Linked DNA regions of Homo sapiens: region 1 is linked to region 2. A link means that fine-mapping ties the variant in region 2 to the expression of a gene that starts in the linked region. Tissue or cell type: whole blood. Region 2 holds a variant in brackets; the other region holds the start of a gene. All regions are shown on one strand. Distances are from middle to middle. Region 1 holds the start of PARP4 (poly(ADP-ribose) polymerase family member 4). Region 2 overlaps PARP4 (poly(ADP-ribose) polymerase family member 4).

Evidence for each region.
Region 1: it holds the start of PARP4, and the variant in region 2 is fine-mapped to the expression of PARP4 in whole blood (TOPMed, PIP above 0.99). The same link has a PIP of 0.9 or more in lung and tibial artery.

The regions. Positions count from the first base shown.
Region 1 is chr13:24,507,983-24,517,338 of GRCh38, forward strand. PARP4 (poly(ADP-ribose) polymerase family member 4) reads right to left here and starts at 4,796. Exons shown (of 34, transcript NM_006437.4): 1 at 4,724-4,796. All of the region lies in intron 1 of LOC105370117 (a long non-coding RNA gene), which reads left to right. RefSeq lists a silencer at 4,794-4,953.
Region 2 is chr13:24,475,940-24,485,295 of GRCh38, forward strand. It overlaps PARP4 (poly(ADP-ribose) polymerase family member 4), which reads right to left. Exons shown (of 34, transcript NM_006437.4): 12 at 8,714-8,809; 13 at 2,154-2,337; 14 at 1,762-1,918. Among named protein-coding and RNA genes, the nearest start is that of PARP4, 32 kb to the right of the region's middle. The variant A/G (reference allele first, on the strand shown) is at 4,103.

The sequences.
Region 1 (9,356 bases), 32 kb after region 2:
TAAACTGAAGTCTCTTGATGTAATTCTGCCTTTCCATAACATTAGCATGGAAAAGTTTCATTTGTTGACTGCCTCTCACATTCAATTAGCATCTGTGCATAGATAGGAGGGATGAAATGAGGGGTACCATAAAAGAGATTACACCACACTATTTAGGTTAATCTATGCTAGTCGTAATCTCTGACAATTAAAAACAACACACAAAAAAAAACACTAAAAGCCTTTAATGACTCTTTAATAATTTCCAGGACAGCCTCTATGTGATAATTGCACCCCCACTTATGCTGACCAAGGTTGGCTGACATGGAGTGGCTGCTCAAGTCCACCTTCAGATGGGTCCTGGATGTGTTAAATCCTCTGACCTGTTTAAAACGTGTTTCCTGGAAAAGTGACTCATGGTCACTGTTGAAAATTTGAAAAATACAGAATTGTATAACAGAAAAAAAAAGAACAAAACAAAAAAATCTCAAAACCTAGGGCTATGTTAGCATCTTGTTTTGCATTTTTCTTCTGGGCTTTTTTCTAGGTCTATTATAACACTTTGTTTTTTGAGACAGTCTCGCTTTTGTCACTTAGGCGGAAGTGCAGTGGTGAGACCTCGGCTCACGGCACCCTCCGCCTCCCGGGTTCAAACGATTCTCCTGCATCAGCCTCCCGAGTAGCTGGGATTATAGGTGCCTGCCACCATGCCTGGCTACTTTTTGTATTTTTAGTAGAGACGGGGTTTCACCATGTTGGCCAGGCTGGTCTCGAACTCCCAACCTTAAGTGATCTGCACACCTTGGCCTCCCTAAGTGCTGGGATTACAGGCATGAGTCACCGCACCCAGCCACAGACTGTATTTTTTATCAAAATTGACATCACACTACCTATCCCGCTGTTATCAGTCAGCATCTTTAGCATTTTGTCATTAAATATTATTGGAAAACATTTTTAATAGAGACTATCAGATATGGACCATAAATGAATTATTGTTGGAAAATTAAATCATTTCTGATTTTTGGTATCATAAAAAGCTATGATGAACATCCTTATGTGCAAATCCTTGTTTCCATCTCCAACAATCATCTTAGAAAATAATACTCAACTAGAACTACTGAATCAAAGTTTGAACAATTTTTTTGTGTTAAAAGTTAATCACTAAGAAGAAAAAATAAAAAGCACCTAAAATGATGGAAATGCTCAAAACTAGACTGCAGTGATGGTGCACAACTTGGTAAATTATTAAAAATTATTGAATTAGGCCAGGCAATGTGGCTCATGCCTGTAACCCTAGCACTTTGGGAGACCAAGTGGAGCAAATCGCTTGAGCCCAGGAGTTTGAGAGCAGCCTGGCCAACATGGCGAAACTTCATCTCTACAAAAAATACAAAACTTAGCTGGGCAAGGTGGTACATGCCTATGGTCCCAGCTACTCAGGAGACTTAGGTGGGAGGATCACTTGAGCCTGGGAGGTCAAGGCTGCAGTGAGCTGTGATCATGCCACTGCACTCCAGCCTGGGTGACAAGAGACCCTATCTCAAAAAAAAAAAAAGAGAGAAAAATTACTAAATTGTACAATTAAAATGAATGAATTTAATGTATGTAAATTGTACCCCAATACATTTTTTAAATAGTATTTTTTGGATACATAATAGTTACATACATATTATGGGTCAATAAAGTTATTTTTAAAAAAGCACCTGATCCCTCCATCCAGAAATAACCCCACTGTTGATTTTTATTTGTTTGTTTTTTGAGCCAGTCTCGCTCTGTCACCCAGGCTGGAGTGCAGTGGCATGATCTCAGCTCACTGCAACCTTCTGCCTCCCAGGTTCAAGTAATTCTCGTGCCTCAGCCTCCAAGTAGCTGGGACTACAGGCACGCACCACCACGCCCAGCTAATTTTTGTATTTTTAGTAGAGACGGGGTTTCACCATGTTGGCCAGGCTGGTCTCGAATTCCTGAGCTCAAGTGATCTGCCCACCTCTGCCTCCCAAAGTGCTAGGATTACAGGCATGAGCCACCACACCTAGCCCCCACTGTTGATATTTTAATTTTTTTGGTGTTATTATTTCTTGTATCATTGTATTTTCTAAATTATTAATATTCTATATTTAATGTTATAGCCAGTTGCTCTTTACTTTTTAAATAGGACTTTCACTTTCACAGCTTATTTAGCTTTTAGTGATATCCTCCCCATGTCACTAAATATTCTTTGAAGGTGTTTTTAGTGGTTACATAAGCTTTGCGTTTATTTCATCCTTCCCCAAGTCATCAGATACTTGGTTACTTAAAAGTGTTCACTATTGGCCGGGCGCGGTGGCTCACACCTGTAATCCCAGCATTTTGGGAGGCCGAGGCGGGCGGATCACGAGGTCAGGAGATCGAGGCCATCCCGGCTAAAACGGTGAAACCCCGTCTCTACTAAAAATACAAAAAATTAGCCGGGCGTAGTGGCGGGTGCCTGTAGTCCCAGCTACTTGGGAGGCTGAGGCAGGGGAATGGCGTGAACCCGGGAGGCGGAGCTTGCAGTGAGCGGAGATCCCGCCACTGCACTCCAGCCTGGGCGACAGAGCGAGACTCCGTCTCAAAAAAAAAAAAAAAAAAGTGTTCACTATTAGAAATACACTTTAATTAAAATGCTTGTACATATATTTTTTTGCCACATCTCTGTCATAGTTTCCCTAGAGTTGATGGCCAGAAATGGAATTACTGAATCAAGGAGTATAAACATTTTTTAGCCTTTTAAAAATTGTGGTACAGTTTTTAAAACTGTGTGTACAGTTCAGTGGCATTAAGTACATACACATAGTTGTGAAATCAAAGTATAAACATTTTATTTTATTTGAGACAGGGTCTGGCTCTGTCTCCCAAGCTGGAGTGCAGTGGTGTGGTCACTGTCACAGCTCACTGCAACCTCGACCTCCCTCCCAGCAATCCTTTCACCCGGCCTACTTAGTAGCTGGGACCACAGGCCTGCACCACCATGCCCAGCTAATTTTGGTAGAGACAGGGTTCTTACTATGTTGCCAAGGCTGGTCACAAACTCCTGGGCTCAAGCCATCCTCCTGCCTCAGCCTCCCAGAGTGCTGGGGTTACAGGTGTGAGCTGCCACGCCCGGCCCAGAGTAAAAACATTTTAAACATAAATCTGCGGTCTGTTCTTAGCACCTGCGGCTGCGTGGGAGGTATGGAAAGGCGCACTTTGGGTTTCGTGAAATCTCAAGTCAGGTCTTGACTTCTCTCTTTCCACAGATTCATCTCTAGTCTCTGTAAAATGCCAGCCCTCTTCTGGGTTAACAGCGCCTAACCGACATGCGCCACTAGTTCTTCCTTGTTTCAAAGTGTTCTCTAAACACAGAGTTAGTTCATGTTTTCATCAGCGCTGATTACGTACATATGAGATGTGGCGGACACTGGGCTAGGGGCTGGTTATTCTCTAAGGCAAATCTGCACAGTCACTCCAGCCTGTCCCCCTTCCCAGCTTCTTCCCCAAATAACATTCACAGAGTGTCTTCCACCCAAAGACAGCAGGGAACAGCCCCGATTCCTAAGAAACCCTCAGCGCGCCTCCTCACAAACTCTTGGCTGCTCCATAAACCATTGGTGTAGGTGGAATCAAGTGGCTTCCTGCTTCACAGGTCTTCGTCTTTACCACTGGCATTTCCTCCTCTCGGAAAACCCTGAGGAGTCCCTTTCTGGGCAGTCTTGATTCTACAGCCTCCGCCTTCCGAAGTGTGTGAGTCAGCACACGCTAAGATCACTTTTGATATACAGTGGGCATTCAATAAAAGCTTGCTTACTAAAAACTCTCACGTATCCATTAAAGCCCAGGATTACAGAAAAGCCTTCTGACACTATTTGCATTTTGGACTCAAATGGCATCAGTAATGCACCTCCCTAATGGGTTTATTAAACCCTTAAACAACAAAGGTACTACTTTTATTTCACTCCTACATGATATACAGTAGCTCTACGCACACAAACAAGACCTAATGTTTACTTAATAAATGATAAAGTCAGATGTAATGAGTCTGCAACACGCACATCTCAGAGCGAACTTCCCCTTTATCATAGCACTATGCTTGGATATTGTCATATAATTGTTGTCATCCAGCAGTCCAGAATTGAAAGTGCTTGGGCTTGAATATTTAGCAGCGCCTTAGTTTTCTAGAACCTGTGATCTACCAACTCGATCCCTGGGTGAACCATTCGGCCCTCCTAGCAGGAATTACTTAACTGAGTTAGAGGTTTTCAACTTTGGACCTCAACAAACACATTGTTTCTATCACGGTGTTCCCAATGACTCACGAGGTCAGATAGTACTTCCTGATTACTCACCAAACCACCTTACTTTTTGCACAATTCGAAACCTAACTTTAGGAAAGAAGGCCGTTTGGCATACTGGAAACAAGAAACAACGCGTGCTACTGCGAACCGCACCGCACGGGGTGCGGAGACTTGGTGTGACTGTCGGCTCCGGTGGGCGCCCCCCACCGCACCCGGTTTCTCGTCACCAGGGCTGCGCCGCGGGGCAGAGCGGAACGACCGCAATATCCCTCCCCGAGGGCGCTGGCTGCACTAGCTAGTCCACTCCCGAGCCTAGCAGCGCCGTCAGGCCCACAGCGCCAACGCCGCGCAGGGCAAGGGTGCAGCCACTGGCGGGAAAGTAGTACGCGGGCCACTTCCTGGCTAGGACTACAGGGACCTTTGCAGCCCCCCACCCCGCAGCGCCCACGCACCTGCCTAGAGGATCCAGCTAGCTCCGGACGCTCCCCGATTCCGCGCTCCTTGCTCGCGGTACTTCCGTAATCTAGGCTCTCCCTGCCCCCGGGGCTGGGCGGGCGCCACTGCGCCGGAACCCCGCCCCGCACCAGGCGGGCGCAGCGTCCCAAGCAGGGACGATAGCCGGAACGCGCCCGGAATCGGGTCCGCCAGGTGGGGAGCGGGTCCCCGGCCTCTGGCGGGGTTTCTCTTCCAAGATCAGCCGGAGGGTTCAGGGCTTTCAGTTTCATATTTCAGGAGGGATTTTGTCAATGAGGATTAATACAAAGCTCGGCTTTGAGAGAGGTGGGTGGATGGTGCTGTCCTTTAACTGAGAAATGGAAGGGATTCACAAGGCCGGGAAAGAAGAAAATTTCGGGAAAGTTCGTGGAAACAGGAGAGTGAGATAATAAATTTACTTTAAGCCTTCCTGCGTTTGAAATTCGTGACAGTGTAACTAGTTGGAAATATATTTATCTGCCATTCAAGAGAGGCAGGGGGCTGGAGATACAGATCTGAGATTCACTGAAATGGGAATAAAGCAATGGGGAAGATTCAGATTTTTAGGATACTGAATAAAATGAGAATAGAAAGGATAGAGTAGAGAATACAGTGGAAAGGGTATGGGGTTGAATCCTGACTCCACAATTTATTACCAAGGGGGCTGGGGACAAGGTAATTTACCAAGTTTCATCATTACAACCTACTCTATAGGGTTGTCTAAGAAACAACAAGAGATTCTGGGGGAGGAGAGAGACTGATTCCTAGAGTTACCACATCGTAATGCTCAAAATGTCCAATCTTCAACAAAAAATTATGAGGCATGCAAAAAAAAAGGCGAAAAAATGGCCAATTCAAAGGAAAAAAGAAATGAACAGAAATTGTCCCTGAGCTGAGGAAGCACAGACATAGGAATTATTAGACAAATACTTCAAATAAACTGTCTTAAACATGGACAAAAAGTGAAAGGAAACATAGAAAAATAACTGAAAGAAACAACCAGGAGAACAAAGTCTCAATAAATAGAGAATATGCAATAGAAGATGTGCAAATGGTCAACAAGCATGAAAAAAAGCCCAGCATAACTAATTATCAGAAAAGTGCAAATTAAAACTGCAATGAGATACCATCTTACACCAGTCAGAATGGTTATTATTAAAAAGTCAAGGAACAACAGATGCTGGCAAGGCTTTATTGAAAAGGAAATGCTTATACACTGTCAGTGGGAATGTAAATTAGTTGAACCACTGTGGAAACCAGTTTGAAGATTTCTCAAAGTGCTGAAAACAGAACTGCTATTCAACCCAGCTATCCCATTACTGGGTACATATTCAAAACAAGAGAACTCATTCTACCAAAAAGACACATGCACTAGTATGTTCGTCACAGCACGCTTCACAATAGGAAAGACATGGAATGAACTTAGGTGCTCATCGACAATGGACTGGATAAAGAAAATGTGGTACATTTGCACCATGGAATACTACGAAGCCATAAAAAGAATGAATGGAATCATGTCCTTCACAGCAACGTGACTGCAACTGGAGGCCATTGTCGTAAGTGAATTAATGAAGGAACAGAAAACCAAATACCACATGTTCTAATTTGTAAGTGGGAGCTAAACACTGGGTACTCATGGATATAAAGATGGCAACAATAGACACTGGGGACAACTAGACAGGGAGGGAGGGGGAGGGGCAAGGGTTGAAAAACTATTGGGTACTATGCTCAGTCCCCGGGTGAGGGGCTCAGTCATACCCCAAACCTCAGCACCACGAATTATATGTAGGTAACAAGCCTGCACATGTACCCTCTGAATCTAAAATAAAAGTTGAAATTATTTAAAAAACAAATAAGGAATATTAATAAAGAGATAGAAATTATAAAAGGAACCAAACACATTTTGGAACTGAAAAGAACCAAAAAGAAATTGTGTAGTTAAAAAGTACAATAGGACCAGGCATGGTGGTTCATGCCTGTAATCCTAGTGTCTTGGGAGGCCAAGGCGGGAGGATCGCTTGAGACCAAGAGTTTGCCTTGGCAACATAGGGAGATCCCCTCTCTACAAAAAAATTACAAAATTAACCGGGCATGGTGGTGCATGCCTGTGGCCCTAGCTACTCAGGAGGCTAAGGCAGGAGGATCACTTGAGCCAAGAAGTTCATGGCTGCAGTGAGCTAAGATCACACTCCTGCACTCCAGCCTGGGTGACAGAGCAATATCTTGTCTCAAAAAAAAAAAAAAGAAGAAGAAAAGAAAAAGAAAAAAATACAATAACTTAAATGAAAAATACACAAGTGATGCTCCAGAGTAGATTTGAGCAGGTAAGAGAAGGAATGAGCAAACTCGAAGATAAAACTGTTGAAATTATTAACTCTGAGGAGCAGAAAGTAGAAGAATGAAGATCAAAGTCCAAAAGATTTGTGGACACCATCAAGTGTATCAGCATATGCATAAAGGGGGTCCCAGAAAGAAAGATGAGGGTGAAGGTGGCAGGAAGAGTATCTGAAGAAACAGTGGCTCCAAAGTCCCCAATTTGTTAAAATACATAATGTAACACTTCAGAGAAGCTCCATGAACTTCAAGTATGATAAACTCAAAAAGTCCACAATAGAGTTATATTAATAATCAAACTGTTGAAAGCCAAAGACAGAGAGAAGCTTAAAAGCAGCTAGACAGAAATGATCACTACATACAAAGGAACTTGAATAAGATTAACAGCCAATCTATTACCATGGGAGCCAGAAGGCAGTGGGATGATATAAAGTGCTGAAAGAAAACAAACAAACCGGCAACCATGAATTCTATATCTGTTAAAACTCTCCTCCAAGAAATGATAGGCCAGGCACGGTGACTCATGCCTGTAATCCTGGCACTTTGGGAGGCTGAGGCAGGTGGATTGCTTGAGCCCAGGAGTTCAAGACCAGCCTGGGCAACATGGTGAAAACCCATCTCTACAAAAAATGCAAAAATTAGCCAGGTATGGTGGCATGTGCCTGTCATCTCAGCTACCTAGGAGGCTGAGGCAGGAGGAACACTTGAGACCTGGAGGTTGAGGCTACAGTGAGTTGTAATTGTGCCACTGCCCTCCAGCCTGGGTGATAGAGTCATCCCATCTAAAAAAAATGTGTAATAAAAACCTATAGAATGCTTGAAGAACCATCCAACTACTATATAATTATTGCTATTTTTGAAGAAAGCAAAAATACAGGTGTGACAACTATTATGGTATTGTTCTGCTCTTATTACAACAAAGATTCAAGCTAGAAATCCTTTACTATCTATTCAACTTCATTCATCATTGGTCAGGCATTCTAGAATGTAGTGGATGTGATAATCCCTTTGCTGTATAGACTCATTAGGTTTCCAGGATGTTTTGTTGTAAGTCCAATGCACCAGCAATAGATTTACCTATATCAAACTGCCAAGATTTAAAAAATGTCTCTCAGCACCCAAGGTTGTTGTTAGAAACTTTCCAGAAGTAATTCTGGAAATCTGAGGTTTCAGGCCTTGGTGAAGAACTCCTTCACTCTTCCTGCAGGTGAAGGAGGATGTGGGTTTTCTTGGGTTTGCCTAGAGGCCAGACACATGCATCTCTCAGTGCATCTTCCCAACCTGTTAGAATTCCCCTTTCTGGCCTGGAAGACATGGGCTTGGGGATCATCCCTTGGCCAGGCTAGCACTTATGTTCTCTCTTTTTTCTTTTTAAGAGTTGGGGGTTTCACTCTGTCGCCCAGGCTGCAGTCTAGTGGTGTGATCATAACCTTAAACTCCTGGGCTCAAGTGATCCTCCTGCCTGAGCCTCCCAAGTAGCTAGGGCTACAGGTGCATGCCACCATGCCTGGCTAACATTCAAACTTCTGGGCGCGAATGATCCACTTCAGTGTTTCAAAGTGCTGGGATTACAGGTGTAAGCCACTGCACCTGACATGTCCTCTCTGGACAGAGTGGACACTTGCTACCATCAGACCAACAATGAAAAGTTGTGAACTCTTGGCTGGGTGTGGTGGCTCATGCTTGTAATCCCAGCACTTTGGGAGGCTGAGGCGGTGGATCACTGGAGGTCAGGAGTTTGACACCAGCCTAGCCAACATGGTAAAACCCCATCTCTACTAAAAATACAAAAATTAGCTGGGCATGGTGGTGCACATCTGTAGTCCCAGCTATTCAGGTGGCTGAGGCAGGAGAATCACTTGAACTGGGGAGGTGGTGGTTGCAGTGAGCTGAGATCATGCCAGAAGGAAAAGTCAGCCTGTATTCCATCAACCAATGATACCAAAATTTTAAGGATAATCTAAAGGGCGGGTTTTGATAACTAGGGAACAGCTCAGATCATTCGCATCACTGTCTGTGTGGGTGCTCCAGGTCTAATGTGCTGATTGCAGGGCTGCAGAGTTGACTCCTGCATGTTCTCACACGTGGAATAGGAGTTAGGCAGCTGCAGCTCTGCCGTGCCCACACTGTCTGCACAGAAGCAGCATCTAAATATACTGTTACTTAAATCTATGTGAAGGTCACTTTGGAATTTAAAAAATTTCATGATTTTGGCCGGGCATGGTGGCTCATGCCTGTAATCCTAACACTTCGGGAGGCCGAGGCGGGCAGATTGCC
Region 2 (9,356 bases):
ATGCCCAGCTAATTTTTTGGTATTTTTTGTAGAGATGAGGTTTAGCCATGTTGTCCAGGCTGGTCTTGAACTCCTGGACTCAAGGGATCTACCTGCCTTGACCTCCCAAAGTGCTGGGACTATGGGCGTGAGACACTACACCTGGCCTGCCTTTTTTTTTGTTTTTTAAAGACCCTTCAGCTTAAATTTTTTTTTCTTCTTTTCTTTTTTTTTTCTTTGGTAGAGATTGGAGTTTCACTATGTTGCCCAGGCTGGTTTTGAACTCCTGTGCTCAAGTAATCCTCCTGCCTTAGCCTCTCGAGTAGCTGCGACTACAGACATGTGCTCTTCTGCCTTTTTAATGTAGAGACTGTGGGGTGTCCTCCTGAAAACACAGCATTACTTGACATACATTTAAACATACACACAAATACACAGAGGTCTTCAGACTGTCTGAAGTGTGGCTGAAGCCTGAATCCAGGTGTCTGCATTCCCTGGCTTATAGTGTGGAAGGGCTCGGTCACTATTATTTATGGTGCCACACAAGCATTTTGGGATGGCATCAAACAACGTAGATTTTCAATCCAAGGAAGACTGAATCAACTCCTATGGCAGCATATTGAAAAATGTACACATCCTATTCTAAGTGGCACAAACATACAGATAAGGTTAGGAAATATAAATACATATTGTCTTGCCAGATATTTCACTTAATGACTCCCAGAGAAAAAACTGGAGTCACCCCTGAACACACATGAACTCATGCGTTTCTGACAAAAAATAATTTGAGCATGGTCAAAAATGTTAATGTGTTCTTACAGTCCTACTAATTAATACTGTAATTGTTTGGCCTCATGATACTCTGAGAAGTGAATATCCTCTTGTATGCTCGCACTACTATGGCTAACACACGCACCACACATGGCAATTTACTCAGTGCCTTCAATTTCCCCTTCAGCCCTTACAGCAATTCTGTCATGCGGGTACTGCTCTCATTCCCATCGGAGAGAAGGTGGAGCGCAAAAGGTCATGCAGTTTCAAAACTGCAAGGTGGCAGGGCGACACTCAAACCCTGGGCTTCCTGGCTCTACAGCGGCTCTGCTGTCTGCTCTCCCCACCCCATTACACTTTCTGCACCATGACATCTTAGCAAGGTTCCACAGGTTTTAGCCTTGGCTATTCCTGAAGCGAATAAGCTCAACTTCAGTGTGTTAATGAAGTCACATGGAATTTCTCAATCATCCTAGTTGTTATGTACGCAAGATAAAAAAGGAAATGAGGCTGGCCATGGTGGCTCATATCTGTAATCCCAGCATTTTGGGATACCAAGGCAGGAGGATCGCTTAATGCCAGGAATTTCAGGCCAGCCTAAGCAACATAGTGAGAATTTGTCTCTAAAAAAAAAAGTCACGGATGGTAGTCCTAGCTACTCAGGAGGCTGAGTCAGGAGGATCATTTGAAACCCAGGAGTTTGAGGCTGCAGTGCACTTTGATCACACACTGTACTCCAGCCTGGGGGACAGAGTGAGACCCTGTCTCAAAAAAAAAGAAATATATATATTTTAAAATTAAGTGCTTTATTTTGATACTAGGCAGAGGGGTTTGACTGATGTTAACACTGAGAGAAATTTGTGGGAAACAATTTTGAGATTGAAAGGAAATGAAATACTTATGGATGAGGTCATAGATATAACAAATGCAAATATACATTCCATTGAAAATATAACATTTGAGGTCTATAAATATAATAACATAAAACAGCATTCAAGAAAATTGTCCTACCTTCAACCTTTGAAAAATTTGAAAACTCAGGTCTGTATTCCTCTAATTCAGTATGATCACTAGGATGAAAGTCCTTTATCTGATCTCCAGGCATGGAAAATTTAATAATATATTTCATTTTAACCTGATTGGTTTTATAGACAACAAATTCATCATCCTAGAGCAAACAGAAATCAGTAGGTGATTAACAACAGAAGCAACAAAAAACCTGTATTGGCAGATGTTTTCATAAAAGCATGTTTGCTAATTTAGAAAATGTTGAATTAATTCATGCAGTAAATATATAACAATTATTTAAACTTAAGCATATTTAATGAAAATAGGAGCAAAAAACTAAGGCCTTTCTTTGAGCATTCAAGACCCTCTTTGCTTCTTCCTTGAAATAAAAATACCTCAAAGTCTGTGGTGACAGAGGCTGTTTGCGAAACTCCATGCACACTGTCGTAGCCTGGTGGTGCTTCAGTTAAGGAAAAGTCCTTCTCATGTAAGTCCATACACTTTCCGAGGGCTACGTCACAAATGAGCAGGAGTCTGGTGCCATCTGTCTCTCCCGGGTGTGAGTACTTGATACTTGTACTACATGCGAAAGGAAATAAACACATATTTACAGCTTAGAGTGACTTGTCAATAACATACTATTGAAAAGACTTTCCTGGTAAACTGTTCTAAATTTTCCTATTATTGAAATATCTCCAAAGACTCAATTTAGAACTTTATTATGCACTTATTTATTTAATATTTCTTCTTTTTTTTTAGACAGAATTTTGCTCTGTTACTCAGGCTAGGGTGCAGTGGCATGATCATAGCTTATTGCAGTCTCCAACTCCTGGGCTCAACTGATCCTCCTGCCTCAGCCTCCTGAGTAGCTGGGACTATAGATGTGCACCACACCTAGCTAACTTTTAAAATTTTCTGCTAAGATGGGGTCTCACTATGTTTCCCAGGCTGGTCTCGAACTCCTGGGCTCAAGTGATCCTCCCTCCTCAGCCTCCCAAAGTGCTGGGATTACAGGCATGAGCAACCATGCCTGGCCTATTTCGCATTTCTATGTGACAAATATGTATACTGCCCTTATGTTGTGCTAGGCAGTGCTCAAAGCACTTTGTTTCCAGAGAGAAATGAATTCTACTGTTCTCCTAAATCTTTGTTAGCTACTAAAATATACACATTTTACTATCATAAATACCAGGGTGGTAAAGAGAAGGAAAAATCACCACCTTATTAATTAGGAAAAAGTAGATTTAATTCTCTGCACTAAAGCTCAGAAAGGAATAAGAACCGTGGGTACCAAGTGAGTAAGAACTGGTCAAAGGGAAAGACAAGCTCTCACAAAGCCTCCTGAAAGGAAAAACAAACATTTCAAATTATATCCAAATGAGAAATGTTGTTTTATCTTTCTTTGGGAATCAGCAGCTTTAATAAGGCAACTCTTGCTATTAGGAGCACAGACTAGGACACACCTTTGGACACAACATTTTGGAGACGCATGTCTGTTTTTTAAAGATTAAGTTCAAAATGCCGAAGTATGGCCAGACGACCCTTCTTTGTTTCACCTACTGAAAAAAAAAATCAGTTCCCCCATTCCTTCTAAAATCCTCTCCCCTTTGGAGGGCTCTTTTCCTGCAACTTACAAGCATGCTTTCTTCCTTCTCATTAAACCCCACTCTGGACTTCTCCCTGGAGCTCTCTCTATTCCTTCCTATCTCACCACGTTCTGGCAAAGGGGGCCCAGCTGGGCTCCTGAGTCTGGTGGGGACGTGGAGAACCTTTATGTCTAGCTCAGGGATTGTAAACACACCAATCAGCACCCTGTGTCTAGCTCAGGGTTTGTGAGTGCACCAATTGACACTCTGTATCTAGCTACTCTGGTGGGGCCTTGGAGAACCTTTGTGTGGACACTCTGTGTCTAGCTAATCTGGTGGGGAGGTGGAGAACCTTTGTGTCTAGCTCAGGGATTGTAAACGCACCAATCAGCGCCCTGTCAAAACAGACCACCCTACTCTACCAATCAGCAGGATGTGGGTGGTGCCAGATAAGAGAATAAAAGCAGGCTGCCCCAGCCAGCAGTGGCAACCCGCTCTGGTCCTCTTCCGCACTGTGGAAGCTTTGTTCTTTCGCTCTTTGCAATAAATCTTGCTACTGCTCACTCTTTGGGTCCACACTGCCTTTATGAGCTGTAACACTCACCACGAAGGTCTGCAGCTTCACTCCTGAAGCCCGCGAGACCACGAGCCCACCGGGAGGAACGAACAACTCCAGATGCGCCGCCTTAAGAGCTGTAACACTCACTGCGAAGGTCTGCAGCTTCACTCCTGAGCCAGCGAGACCACGAACCCACCAG[A/G]AGGAAGAAACTCCGAACACATCTGAACATCAGAAGGAACAAACTCTGGACACGCCGCCTTTAGGAACTGTAACACTCACCGCGAGGGTCCGCGGCTTCATTCTTGAAGTCAGTGAGACCAAGAACCCACCAATTCTGGATGCATTACTATTGCAATTGTTTTGGGCTGCAACAATCTGTGCCCATACAAGGTGGTGGGCTTGGCAAATGTTTTGTGTGTTCTGACTGCTCCACTGACCAGTGGTTCCCTCATCTCTCTCCTCCTTCTCTGGCCTCCCTATTCCCTGAGATACAACAATATTGAAATTAGGCCAATTAATAATAACCCTACAGCGGCCTCTAAGTGTTCAAGTGAAAGAAAGGGTTGTACATCTTTCACTTTAAATTAAAAGCTAGAAATGATTAGGCTTGGTGAGGAAGGCATGTTGAAAACCAAGACAGGCTGAAAGCTAGGCCTCTTGTGGCAGTTATCCAAGTGGTGAATGTAAAGAAACAATTTTTGAAGGAAATTAAAAGTGCTGCTCCAGTGAACATAGGAATGATAACAAAGCAAAACAGCCTTATTGCTGATATGAAGAAAATGTTAATGGTCTGGATAGAAGATCAAACCAGCCACAGCATTCTCTTAAGCCAAAGCCTAATCCAGAGCAAGGCCCCAACTCTGTTCAATTCTATGAAGGCTCAGAGAGGTGAGGAAACTGCAGAAAGAAGGCCTGAAGCTAGCAGAGGTTGGCTGAGGTTTAAGGAAAGAAGCCATCTCTATAACGTAACAATGGAAGATGAACCAGCCAGTGCTGATGTAGAAGCTGCAGCAAGTTCTCCAGAAGATCTAGCTAAGATCATTGATGCAGGTGGCTTCACCACACAACAGATTTTCCATGTAGACAAAACAGCCTTCTATTGGAAGAAAATGCCATCTAGGACTTCCACAGCCGGAGAGAAGTCAATGGCTGGCTGCAAAGCTTCAGACGACAGGCTGACTCTTGTCAGGGGCTAATGCAGCTGGTGACTATAAGCTGAAGCCAGTGCTCACTTACCATTCCAAAAATCCTAGGGCCCTTAAGAATTGCGCTAAATCTACTCTTTCTGTGCTCTACAAATGGAACGACAAAACCTGGATGACAGCACATCTGTTTACAGAATGGTTTACTGAATTTTAAGCCCAATGTATAGATCTACTGCTCAACAAAAAAGGTTCTTTTCAAAATATGACTGCTCACTGGCAAAGCGCCTAGCCATCCAGGAGCTCTGATGGAGAGGTACAAGGAATTTGTTGTTTTCATGCCTGCTAACACAACTTACAATCTGCAGCCATGGATCAAGGAGTAATTTCAGCTTTCAAGTCTTATTATTTAAGAAATACATTTTGGGCTGGGCGTGGTGGCTCATGCCTATAATCCCAGCACTTTGGGAGGCCAAGGCAGGCAGATCACCTGAGGTCAGGAGTTCGAGACCAGCCTGCCCAATATGATGAAACCCTATCTCTACTAAAAATACAAAAATTAGCCAGGCGTGGTGGCATGCGCCTGTAATCCCAGCTACTCAAGAGGCTGAGACAGAAGAATCGCTTGAACCCAGGAGGCGGAGGTTGCAGTGAGCCAAGATCACACCATTGCACTCCAGCCTGGGCAACAAGAGCAAACTCCATCTCAAAAAAGAAAAAAAGAAAGAAAGAAATACATTTTGGCCAGGTATGCCTGTAATCCCAGGAGTCTGAGGTGGGATGATCACTTGAGTTCAGCAGTTTGAGGTTCCAGGGAGCTATGGCTATGGTTGCATCTTACTGTACTCTCACCTGGGCAATAATGGATCAAGACCCCAACTCTAAAAAGAAAAAAATACATTTTGTAAGGCTATAGCTGCCATAGACAGTGATTCCTCTGATGGATCTGGACGAAGTAAATTGAAAACCTTCTGGAAAGGATTTGCTATTCTCCTTGCCCTTAAGAGCATTTGATGAATTATGGGAGGAGGTCAGCCTATCAGTATTAACAGGGGTTTGGAAGAAGTTTACTCTAACTATCTTGGGTGACTTTGAGGGGTTCAAACTTCAGTGAAGAAAGTCACTGTAGATGTGGCAGAAGCAGCAGGAGAACTAGAATTACAATTGGAGCCTGAAGATGGGACTGAATTGCTGCAATCTCATGATCAAACTTGAAAGAATGAGGAGTTGCTTCTTATGAGTGAAGAAAGTGGTTTCTTGAGATGGAATCCATTCCTGGTGAAGATGTTGTGAACACTGTTGAACTGACAACAAAGGATTTTGAATATCACATAAACTTAGTGGACAAAGCAGCAGCAGTGTTTGAGATAATTGACTCCAATTTTCAAGGAAGTTCTACTTTAGGTAAATGCTATCAAATAGCATCTCATACTACAGATAAATCTTTCATGAAAGGAAGAGTCAATTGCTGAGGCAAACTTCATTGTTGTCTTATTTTAAGAAATTGCCACAGCCACCTCAACTTTCAGCAACCACCACCCTAATCAGTCAGCAGCCATAGACATTGACACGAGACCTTCCACCGGCAAAAAGACAATGGCTCACTGAAGGCTTAGATGATCGTTAGGATTTTTAGTAATAAAGTAAGTTAAAATTAAGGTTATGTACATTGTTTTTTTTTTAAACACAATGCTATTGCACACTTTAATAGACTAGAGTGTAAACCTCTTATACTCATTGGGAAACCAAAAATGTGTGTGACTCACTTTATTGCAGTATTTGCTATATTGCAGTAGTGTGGAACCAAACCCTCAATATCTCCAAGGTATGCCTGTATAAGGAATCATCTAATAACTTTTCATCCACTAAGGTCCTAAGGCTCATCCATTTGACATGTGTAGCCACAGTCCACTTGTTTCAACTGAAGGACAGGACTTCATGTAGGACTCCACCAAAATGTACGGATCCATTCCACTGTCGATGGACATCTGCATGATTTCCAGTGTTCTGTTACTACAGTGCTCTTTTTTTCTTCTTTTCTTTTTTTTTTTTAAGAGATTGGGTCTCGCTTTGTCTCCCAAGCTGGATGTAGTGGTTCAGTCATACCTCACTGTGGCCTTGGACTGCTGGGCTCAAGCAGTCCTCCTGCCTCAGCCTCCTGAGTAGCTTTGATTACAGGTGTGTGACACAATGCCTGGCTAATTTTAAAAAGTTTTTTTTGGCCGGGCGCGGTGGCTCACGCCTGTAATCCCAGCACTTTGGGAGGCCGAGGCGGGTGGATCATGAGGTCAGGAGATCGAGACCATCCTGGCTAACAAGGTGAAACCCCGTCTCTACTAAAAATACAAAAAATTAGCCAGGCGCGGTGGTGGGCACCTGTAATCCCAGCTACTCGGGAGGCTGAGGCAGGAGAATGGCGTGAACCCGGGAAGCGGAGCTTGCAGTGAGCCGAGATTGTGCCACTGCAGTCCGCAGTCCGGCCTGGGCGACAGAGCGAGACTCCGTCTCAAAAAAAAAAAAAAAAAGTTTTTTTTAGAGATGGGGTCTTGTTGTGTTGCCTAGGCTAATCTCAACCTCCTGGACTCAAGCAATCTTTCTGCCTCAAACTCCTGAGTAGCTGGGACTACAGGTGTGTGCCACTGCACTCAGCTCATTTTTTGAGACAGAATCTTGCTCTTGTCACCCAGGCTGGAGTGCAGTGGCACCATCTCAGCTCACTGCAATCTCTGCCTCCTAGGTTCAAGCCAGTCTCCTGCCTCACCCTCTTGAGTAGCTGGGACTACAGGTGCACACCACCACGCCCAGCTAATTTTTGTATTTTTATTAGAGATGGGGTTTCGCCACATTGGCCAGGCTGGTCTCGAACTCCTGGCCTCAAGTGATCTACCTGCCTTGGCCTCCCAAAGTGCTGGGATTACAGGCATGAGCTACTGCGCCTGGCCCCAGCTCGTCTTCTTTGCTATTAGGTTTCTATTTAAGTCTTTTGCACATCTGCTTATAGGATTGTTTATCTTTTCCTTATTGATTTGTAGGAACTCTTTAAATATCTTGGATCATTATCCTTTGTCCTGGGCCTGAACTCAGTCTCCATCCTTTAATTAGCTCTGCAACCTTAGGCAAGTTCCCTGACCTCCCTGAGTCTGTTTCCTTGCATTAAATGATGTCACAATACCAATTATGAGGTTGGCAGATGATGTACATGGGGTTCTTCTCACTGTGTTGCCCAAGCTGGACTGCAGTGACATAATCATAGCTCACTCCAGCCTTGAATTCCTGGACTCAAGTGATCCTCCTGCCTCAGCCTCCCCAGTAGCTAGAACTATAGGTTCTATTAGCGCCACCATGCACGGCTAATTTTTTAATTTTTTTGTAGAGATAGGGTCTTGCTATGCTGCATAGGCTGGTCTTAAACTCCTGGGCTCAAGTGATCCTCCCACCCTGGCCTCCAAAAGAGCTGGGAGTACAGGCACGAGCCACCATGTCTGGCATAAGGGCAGATTTAAACATTATCAAGGATGCTGAAGATGAAATAGTATTCCAGCCACATTGAGGTCATATATAATAGATAAATCTGTGTTTTGGTTGAGAAACTCCCTCACCAAGGAAAGACAGAAGAAAATACACAGCAAGTATTCAGTAACGATTCTGTGATTAAGGATCGAACATACCTGAGCGAATCACTGAAATAAATCCCACTTCCAAGGTTTCCGACGTCTGTTCTTTGCACACCACGATCTTCCACTACTTTGGGTAAAAGCAACCCTCTGAAAAGAGAAGGGCAGGATAAGGTGTAAGCCCAACACTGACTGCATCTCTTCCTTGCTCAGAATTTTGGCAGGTTCCTACTGAACTTCTGGCATTCAGAGAACTCTGCAATCAGGGTGAAGCCATGGTTGTTTCCGGAAACACAAGGGAAATTTCTGCCTTTTATTATATAAACATCTATTGTTTGAATTTCACATTAGGAGATTGAATGAATTTTGTAAAATAGCTTTTGGGTTTTGGTCCTACTTAGAAAGCTCATCCCTACTTAAAGATTATTTTAAGAAGATTCTCCCATTTTTCATTTAGTATACTTTTATGGTTTGATTTTAAATATTTAAATATTTGCTCTGTCTGGAGTTAAAGTATGAGAAATGAGGTAAAGGTCCAACTTTGTATTTTTTCCTTGTGGTTACCCATTTATCTCTATAGATAGTATTGAAGAACTTGTCTTTCTTCCACAGAGATAAGATCTACTTGTATCATATCCTAAATCTTCTGTGTTTTTGGGTTCATTTGTGTTTAATATTAATGTCACCCTCATTGTGC